Regions from separate parts of the Homo sapiens genome. Here region 1 is linked to region 2. The links come from fine-mapping of genetic effects on gene expression. Tissue or cell type: whole blood. Region 2 holds a variant in brackets; the other region holds the start of a gene. All regions are shown on one strand. Distances are from middle to middle.

The links. PIP is the estimated chance that this variant, and not a neighbour inherited with it, causes the effect.
Region 1: it holds the start of MB21D2, and the variant in region 2 is fine-mapped to the expression of MB21D2 in whole blood (INTERVAL, PIP 0.98).

Annotation. Positions count from the first base shown.
Region 1 is chr3:192,915,591-192,919,990 of GRCh38, reverse strand. It overlaps MB21D2 (Mab-21 domain containing 2), which reads left to right and starts at 2,135. Exons shown (of 2, transcript NM_178496.4): 1 at 2,135-2,361. The coding sequence starts at 2,151. RefSeq lists a silencer at 1,830-2,189 and an enhancer at 2,840-3,169.
Region 2 is chr3:192,948,640-192,953,039 of GRCh38, reverse strand. No RefSeq gene overlaps it. Among named protein-coding and RNA genes, the nearest start is that of MB21D2, 33 kb to the right of the region's middle. The variant ATTTATTTATTTG/G (reference allele first, on the strand shown) is at 2,751.

The DNA.
Region 1 (4,400 bases), 33 kb after region 2:
TCTTCACTCATTACTTGATTCAATAAACATAGAGGACCCTTCGGTAGGACCATATGCTGCAGGAAATACAAAGATGAATAAGATGTAGCCCTCATCCCCAAGAATCTTTTAGTCTAAAACTTGCATTAACAATGATGAAGTGGTCAGGTGTGGTGGCTCACGCCTGTAATCCCTTTGAGAGATCTAGATGCAAGGACTGTTTAATCCCAGGAGGTTGAGGTTGCTGTGAGCCACGATTGTGCCACTGCACTCTGGCCTGGGCTACAGAGGAAGACCCTGTTTCAGAAACAAACAAACACACACACACACAACCCAAAACAAAAAGCAATGATGAAGCAAGGTCAAAATTCATTAGCATCATATGAAAGCTTCTGAGAGTAGGTTCTGAGGAAGGAAAAGTTGCCACCAGCTTGAGGGGAGGGTCTCCGGAAAGCTGTAAGAAAAAGGCAGACGCGGATTGGTTTTGGTGTAAACGGAGTAAAGAAGAGAGGAATTCCAGGGGGAGGTCAGTGGTCAGGTCTGTGTTTTCTAAAGATCACTCTGGCAACAAGTTGTTACTAGATTGAGGAACAGTGAAAGAATTAATAACAATAATAGTAGAAGCTGATAATAGCTAAGTACTTATTATGTCAGTCCTTGAACTAAGTGCTTGACCTGTTTTATCTCACGTAATCCTTAAAACAACCTGTGAGACAGGAATTATTATTCCCATTTTATAGGGGAAGGCATGGAAGAGTCCGTACTTCCTTCCATGTCTAACAAAACAATTTGTATTCTTGGCCATGAGAACTCGGGTAAGAAAGTGAAACAGACCTGATCTAAATCAGGGACTGTGGGATAGAGAAGAGAGATTTTGGAGAATTAGGGAGGAAGATAACCTATGTTTCTCACAGCCAATGGGCCTCCTAAGTGTTTGAATGATACACCCCATAAACACTAAAACCACCTCTGAGACTCTATTCTGCCTAAAGGACTATGACTTAGATTGAACCTGCCTTGTCATGTAAGCCTAACTCCATGGTAGGAGCCATGTCTTTTGGTTATCACTGTCACATTCTGTCACTCCATCTGGCAAATGGTGCGTACTCAAATTTTATCTGTTGAATGAGAAAATTTTCATCTTGTCATCCAACATTTCTTGGAACCTGGGGCAATACATTGTTTCCCCTCTCCCACACCCACACTTCAGTTTCCCTATCTTTATATTAGAGTAGGTTGAATCTCATTAACTCATTATATGTTAAGATAAATAAGCTGTTATTCAGGTCATTAATTACCTTGGGCAAAGGTAGGGATATCTAGGGGTTAGTGGGAGTGCCAATACTGGGTTAGATGTGGACCCTCTTTTTTTATACGCTCAATCCTATCATCTTGGCAATCCAAGAGGAAAAGGGTAGAAGACAGGTTTCATATTCCTTAAGGCAGTTTCCTTTACTATTTAAAGGTATTGGAGTTCTTGGGATAGAGAGGTAAACGCGCACAGAGATGTCCTCCCCCAGGACACCGCCCTTAAAATCAAACGGAGGAAGACTTTCTTCTCCTTGAATGCGCTTGGCAAACCCTGCCCAGAAAGGGGATGGGGGGACGGCCGTGGAGGTGGAGAAAGAATGCATCCACACCTCGCGCGTCTTCCCAAGTACGGATTGGCAAGTGGTATATGCGTGCAGACCTCTGTCATTTATTTATTTTCCTTTCCACTGGGTGCGCTGTCCCTTTAAATGGAGACGCTGGTGCTGGCTCCGTAACACCGGAGCCGGCAGCTTGTTGATTTCAGAGCTGGTGAATTTCACATTGTTTCCACTTCACTTTCCTCGCCCGGGGGAGGCTCCAGTTGGCTCTACGACCGCCGTTGCCGCTGCCAGAGAGGGCCAGGGCAGGGCAGGGACGCGCAGCATCGGGGCGGGCGTGGGGCCGGAGAAAAGGGTGTCGGGGCCACACACGCACCCTCGCTGCAGTCCAGCTCCTCCCGAAGCTCGCACGCCCAGAGCGCACGGAGCGGGGGACTGCCCGCCCAGACGCCCGCCCGCCAACCCGCCCACGAGCCGGGGCCAAAGCCTGGGAGCCTGCGAGGGGAGGAGGCCCAGGGGGGCGGGGTGGGGGGCGGGGGTGGGTGCCGCGCTGCCGCGGAGCTGCTACTCGGCGCGTTTTGCATGAAGATGGCGGCTCCCACCGCCAACAAGGCAGCCTCCCTGGGCTGTAACAACAAGCCTGCGTTCCCGGAGCTGGATTTCAGGTCGGGAGCTCGGGTGGAGGAATTGAACAAACTCATCCAAGAATTTACGAAGCACGACCAGCGGGAATACGACGACCAGAGAGCGCTGGAGATTCACACAGCCAAGGATTTCATCTTTTCCATGCTGGGTAAGGAGGAAAAAGGGGGAGGTGTGTGTGCGTGTGTGTGTGTGATGGGAAGCGGAGTAGAAAACCCATTGCCGCTTCTCGACCTCTTCCCTTCTGGGTTGCCTTCCCGAGCCGGTGCCTTGGGTATAAGCCATCTCTGTTCCGCCTCTCTCTTCTTTCTCCGCCGAAAGCCGAGCTGCCTGCCCTCCCCTCCTTACTATACTTTACGCCGGGTCTCCCTTTCCCCCTGTTCGCTTGCTCTTTTGTTAATTTCTCCGCCACCTGGGGCTGGCAGGCAGGTGAGGCGTTCGCGGTGAAGCGTTGCACTGTTGGGGGAAGCCCCTGGAAGCGAGTGCAGTCCAGGTGAGCCCCTGAGGTGCCTTCAGTTGAGGGATTTGGCTGCCGGAGGCAGGGACCTCCGCTTTCCCGACGCCGGCTCTTGGGTGCTCTCCCGAGCTTGGGAGCGGAGACGGCTCAGGGCTCTGGCTTGGCGCCCGAGCGACAAGTTGCTTCTGTCGTCTCGCGGCGCGGCGCTGTCATGCCGAGCCCCCGGTGGCCAAACTTGTTGGGTGTTCCCGAGTAACCCGCTGAAGTAGTCTAGGCGTCCGGAGTTCCTGCAACTTTGATTTGCAAATTGACTTCTCTTATGAAGCGATCGGAAGCATTTCCGGTGCTTCTTCAGGGCTCTCGCTGAGCTCGGAATTCTTAATTCCCAGCTCTTCCGTGACTAGGCGCGGAGCTCTGGCCGCAGAGGAGCGCCGGTTCCCTGCTCTTTGTGTATTGTCTTAGCGCTGGCCGAAAGAGGTGCCCAGAGTTTCCAACCGCGGAGACGTCGGGGGCTAGAAAATGTGTCCCCCACTCCCACCTCCAGCCCCTCACCTACGGCTCCTGAAACATGATTGAATGCTGTGTAAAGGAACATAATTGAGCCAGGCCCGGGAGACCGAGCCCACCCTCCCCAGGTGTCCTGCCGTTGGGATTATTGCTACTGAGGTGTAGTGTGAGTTTGCCAGGCGCCTGGGTTGTAACTTGCGGCTCCGCCAGCGGATCCGTGGCTGTCAAGCGGTGCGTGGCCGGCGGTCAACATTCCGAAGAACTGGTACTCCAGGGTAGCGCTGCTCTAACGCTCGTCTCTGGGTGCTCTCTACAAATAGATAAGCCAATTTTCCAGGTGTTGAAAAATTTGATTGGGAAAGGTCTTTTGGCCACAGACTAAGACAGGGCTTTTCTCTTTCTCCTGCAATCTAATTGGGTTTCAGCCGGCTGTTGCTGCTTCTATCCTGGGATACCTTCTTCCTTCTAGGTTTTCTTCTTCCTCACTGCCCAAGGACGGGGTAATACAGACTGAACGTGTCTGTGTCCGCTGGTAGTTGTTCACGCGTTGGGAAGTTAGATGAAACATGTTAAAACTCTAGGCTGGTTTTTACCTTTTGCGCCGCACTCTTCAAGTGTGTCTTACGTTGCGTATGAGGTTGAAAAACTATTGAGAGATTCAGCCGTTCAACTATGTAGATGAATAGATGAATTAAATATATATATATATATATATATAAAACCTGGTAGGAGTGAGCTTCCACAGGGAAGCCTAAAATGCTTACAAAGCCAAAAGCCAACACAGTGATTGTCAGGAAGGTGGGGCCACACACAGAAGGCTGAGCGCAGTTACTTAAGTTGTTTAGTTAATCATAGCCTTTCTCTGTGGCATAAATAATGGAAGTCTGCCATTGTGTTAATACAGCCCCCAGATCAGTTCTGATGTCACTTGCGTAGGTCATTTACTAGAAGAAGGTACTGGGTCACCACCAGTTAGGGTAGTCATGGGTCAGGAAATGGGATAATGTAGGGAGGGTAAATTTAAGTGCCTGGCTCATGAGGAACTTCTGTGCTTAACTCCAAAGCTGATACACTGAATCAGCAAAGCTTTTATCCAAATATAAAAAAGTAAATTATTCTAGGGTGCTTAATTTTTGCATGTGTTTAATGCCATGGGTGGCATTGTGTTGACAGGTAAACTAGATTTGCTTCTATTCCTTTTTACCCAGTTGACCTTGCAAGCAGTC
Region 2 (4,400 bases):
CTCCTGCCTCAGCCTTCCGAGTAGCTGGGATTACAGGCGCCTGCCACCACGCCCGGCTAACTTTTTGTATTTTTAGTAGAGACAAGGTTTCACCGTGTTGTTAGCCAGGATGGTCTCGATCTCCTGACCTCATGATTCGCCTGCCTCGGCCTCCCAAAGTGCTGGGATTACAGGCGTGAGCCACCGCGCCCGGCCTGCTGCTGGTTTTGAGTGTAAAACATACAGCCTTTGTAGAAAGAAATCTGGCAATATTTAGCAACATTAAGAACAGTTGGCTGGGCCAGGCATGGTGGCTCACGCCTGTAATCCCAGCACTTTGGGAGGCTGAGGCAGGCAGATCATGAGGTCAGGAGTTCAAGACCATCCTGGCTAATACAGCGAAACCCAGTCTCTACTAAAAACACACAAAATTAGCCAGGAGTGGTGGCAGGTGCCTGTAATCCCAGCTATTCAGGAGGCTGAGGCAGGAGAATCACTTGAACCAGGTACGCAGAGGTTGCAGTGAGATGAGATCACACCAATGCACTCCAGCCTGGGCGACAGAGCAAGACTCTATCTCAAAAAAAAAAAAAAAAGAAAAGAAAAGAAAGGAATGGTTGTACCTTATGACCCAACAATCCCAACAATGGATATACCCAGAACATTTCTCCCATGAGTTCACTAAGAGACAAATACAAGATAAAGCTAGGCACAGTGGCACACACCTGCAGTCCCAGCTACTCAGGAGGCTGAGGAAGGAGGATCACTTGTGCCCAGGAGTTTGAGTCCAACCTAGGCCACATAAGGAGACTCCATATTTAAACAAAAGAACTTAATTGTGGCAGCATTGTTTGTGGTATTAAATATAGAAGTTACCTAGTATTCACCAGAGAGGAATAGATGAGTAAAATGTGATAAGTTAATAGTCTGGAATTCTAAGCCATGGTCAGAGCAAATTAACATGTAGTCACATGGACAGACCTAAAAGCACAGTATTGAATGAAAATGTCTAGCACAGTACATTTAAGTAAATAAAAATCCATAGATAAAGCAGCATTTTCATACTTAAGGACATAGCAAATACAGTAGAATAAGTGTCTAAGGGGGAGAAAGGGCTGGGAATGACAATTATGAGTGGAGAAAAAATGTACAATAATAAAACATGAAAGAGTCTCAGTATGCATTAATGATGATAGTATTCTATGAACCAAAGTAATTAAATAAACTTTGCGAACGTGGGGTTAAAAAGTAGAACAGAAAAAACAGAGAGATGTTGTTGAAGAGATGATGTGATATAGAGAAAATTAACCTGTCCTGCAGGCAGGAGACCTGGGTTTTCATCTTGACTCTGCCTCTTGCCTGTTGGATAACACGTGCCTGGTACTTTCTTCTCTAGATTTCCATTTTCGTCTTTGATATGATAACAATATTAGGCTAAATTTCTAAGATCCTTTCCAGCTTTGTGCTTCAAGTATTCTGTTCTTCCATTCCCATCAATAACCTCTAGAATGCCATTCATAAGCAGCAGTAAAACCGTATCAGCCATTTCAGAACATTTTTAATTCACAGTGAAAGATAATCTAACTTATGAGAAATGTCTTTTGCTGAAGGTGTGTTTTTACACATCTGGCTGACAGAGTGGTATCCTTTGTTAAAATGTGCATCCTTTATTATCTTAAAGCAACAGTTTCCCTTTTCATGGATCTATGAATGAAAAGAAACAGCAAAAAACAGCTTAAATAATGTTCAATATGATCGGAGGTGCTATAGAACCAAAAAGCCTTTCTTGGATAATCAGAGCCTGGTTGATGATAATGATGATGATGATGATGATGATGATGACAATGATGATAAGCAAACTGAAAAAAAACATAAACCCAGGAGAAATTCAGCTTGTCTCTACACATCTAGCCCATAGAGGCCACCAGGCCTTTCTAGCCGGCCCTGGGCTGCTTTGGCTCTAACTTTAATTTACTTTAAAACACATCCTTGAGATGAGAGATGGAAAGCATTATGAAATGAGGAAGGTCATTTATACACCTGTGGACTCCATTTGCAAATTAAAATAACAAAATAGAAAAATACACACTGTCATGGAAAATCCATTCTGTATTATACTAGAAGAATTTTTTTGCCCTTTTAAGGGCTCATTAAAATGCAACAGTGCTCATTTCAACCAATTACTATTTTGGCTATGAATAGGAAAATATGTGTGAATGGCCAGCCCAGTACAAATGAAAACATTTGCATAACGTCAGCTCTTTCTTTTGTTGCATAATTAATCATTTAGAATTACATATTTGTAAATGTAATTTTTAAATGTCAGAAGAAATCATATTTTACTTATTGAACCACTCGAAATCATAATTACAGCTATCGTTTATTGAACACTCACTGAGTACCAGACATTATATGTATATTAATGGTTATGCTCATCACAATATAATAAAGTGAATATTACTATCACTGTTCTTGGATTAGGAAACTAAAGTTCAGAGAGAGTGATTAACGTGTCCAAGATGATAAGCAATTCAAAGCTAAGTATGACTGTTTATTAAAGCTTTTGTTCCTTATCACCATAACATTCAGCCTCCTCTAAAGATTTTTCTTCTGAAAATAATGACCCCATATTAACAGGTAAATTTATTGTGTATTCACTAATATGCCACTGTGCATACAACTATATACACATGGCCTCCTATAATTCACCAAACATCCCTATGAGATGTGGATACTCTTATTTATTTATTTATTTATTTATTTATTTATTT[ATTTATTTATTTG/G]AAACAGAGTCTTGCTCTGTCTCCAGGCTGGAGTGCAGTGGCACGATCTCGGCTCACTGCAATCTCCACCTCCTGGGTTGAAGTGATTCCCCTGCCTCAGCCTCCTGAGTAGCAGGGACTACAGGCACGCGCCACCACACCCTGCTAATTTTTTGTATTTTAGTAGAGACAGGGTTTCACCATGTTGGCCAGGATGTTCTCGATCTCCTGACCTCATGATCCGCCCTCCTCGGCCTCCCAAAGTGCTGGGATTACAAGCGTGAGCCACTGCGCCCGGCCACGATGTAGATACTCTTATACACATTTTAGGTGATGAGAAAACTGAGGCTTAAGGAAAATAGTACCTGGTTCAATATAGCGCAGCTATAAAGTAATGGAATCTGGATTCAAGGTCTTGATAATTATTAGTTCTTTCATTAAATTTTTTTTTAAATTTTATATAATAAAATTGGCTTTCCTGATGTACAGTTCTAAGAATTTTAATACGTGTGTAGATTCATGCAAGCATCACTACAATCAGTATACAAATCAGTACCATCGCTTTACCCATTTGTAATCACACCTTCCTCCCATGCTAACCCCTGGAACTCAGTGATCTGGTCTCTGTCACATAGTCTTTTTCTTTGTGAGAATGTGACATAAATGGAATTTTGTAGTATATAACCTTTTCGAACTGACTTCTTCCACTCAGTATAATGTCTTTGAACTCCATTCTTGCTGCTGCATGGAACGATAGTCTCTTCCTTTACATTGCTGAGTAATTTTCTGTAATACAGATGTATCACATTTATTTATCCATTCATCTGTTGAAAGAAATTTGAGCTGTCTCAGGTTTTGGAGATCATGAATAGAGTCGCTATACGCATTACATGTAAGATTTTGTGTAAAGGTAAGTGTTTGTTTTGTGGGGATAAATACCTAGGAGTCAGGTTGTTGGGTCACATGGTAAGCATTTGTTTAACCTTACAACTGCCAACCTTTTCTAGAATGGTTGTATCTTGACTTCTCACCAGCAAAATATTACAGCTCCAGTGCCTCCACATCCTTATCAGCACTTGGTATTGTCAGTTACTGTTTTCTTTTTTTCTTTTCAGCCTTTCTTTTCCTTTTTTCTTTCTTCCTTTTTTTTTTTTTTTTTTTTTTTTTGAGATGGAGTTTCACTCTTGTTGCCCAAGCTGGAGTGCAATGGTATGATCTCGGCTCATCGCAACCTCCACCTCCCGGGTTCAAGTGATTATCCTGCCTCAGCCTCTCAAGTAGCTGGGATTACAGGCATGTGCCACCATGCCAGGCTAATTTTGTATTTTTAGTAGAGAGAGGGCTTCACCATATTAGTCAGGCCGGTCTTGAACTCCTGACCTCAGGTGATCCGCCCACCTCCGCCTCCTAAAGTGCTGGGATTACAGGCATGAGCCACCGTGCCTGGCCTAATTTCAGCCTTTCTAAAAAGTGTTTAATAGTATCTCATGGTGGTTTAATTTGCATTTTTTCTATTTGAACTTCTTCATGTGCTCATTAAAGAGATGCTAAACATCCCTTTCTGTGCTTATTTGCCATCTATATCCTCTTTAGCAAAGTGTCTATTCAAGATATTTGCCCATTTAAAAAAGTGTGTTTTTCTTACCATTGAGTTTTAAG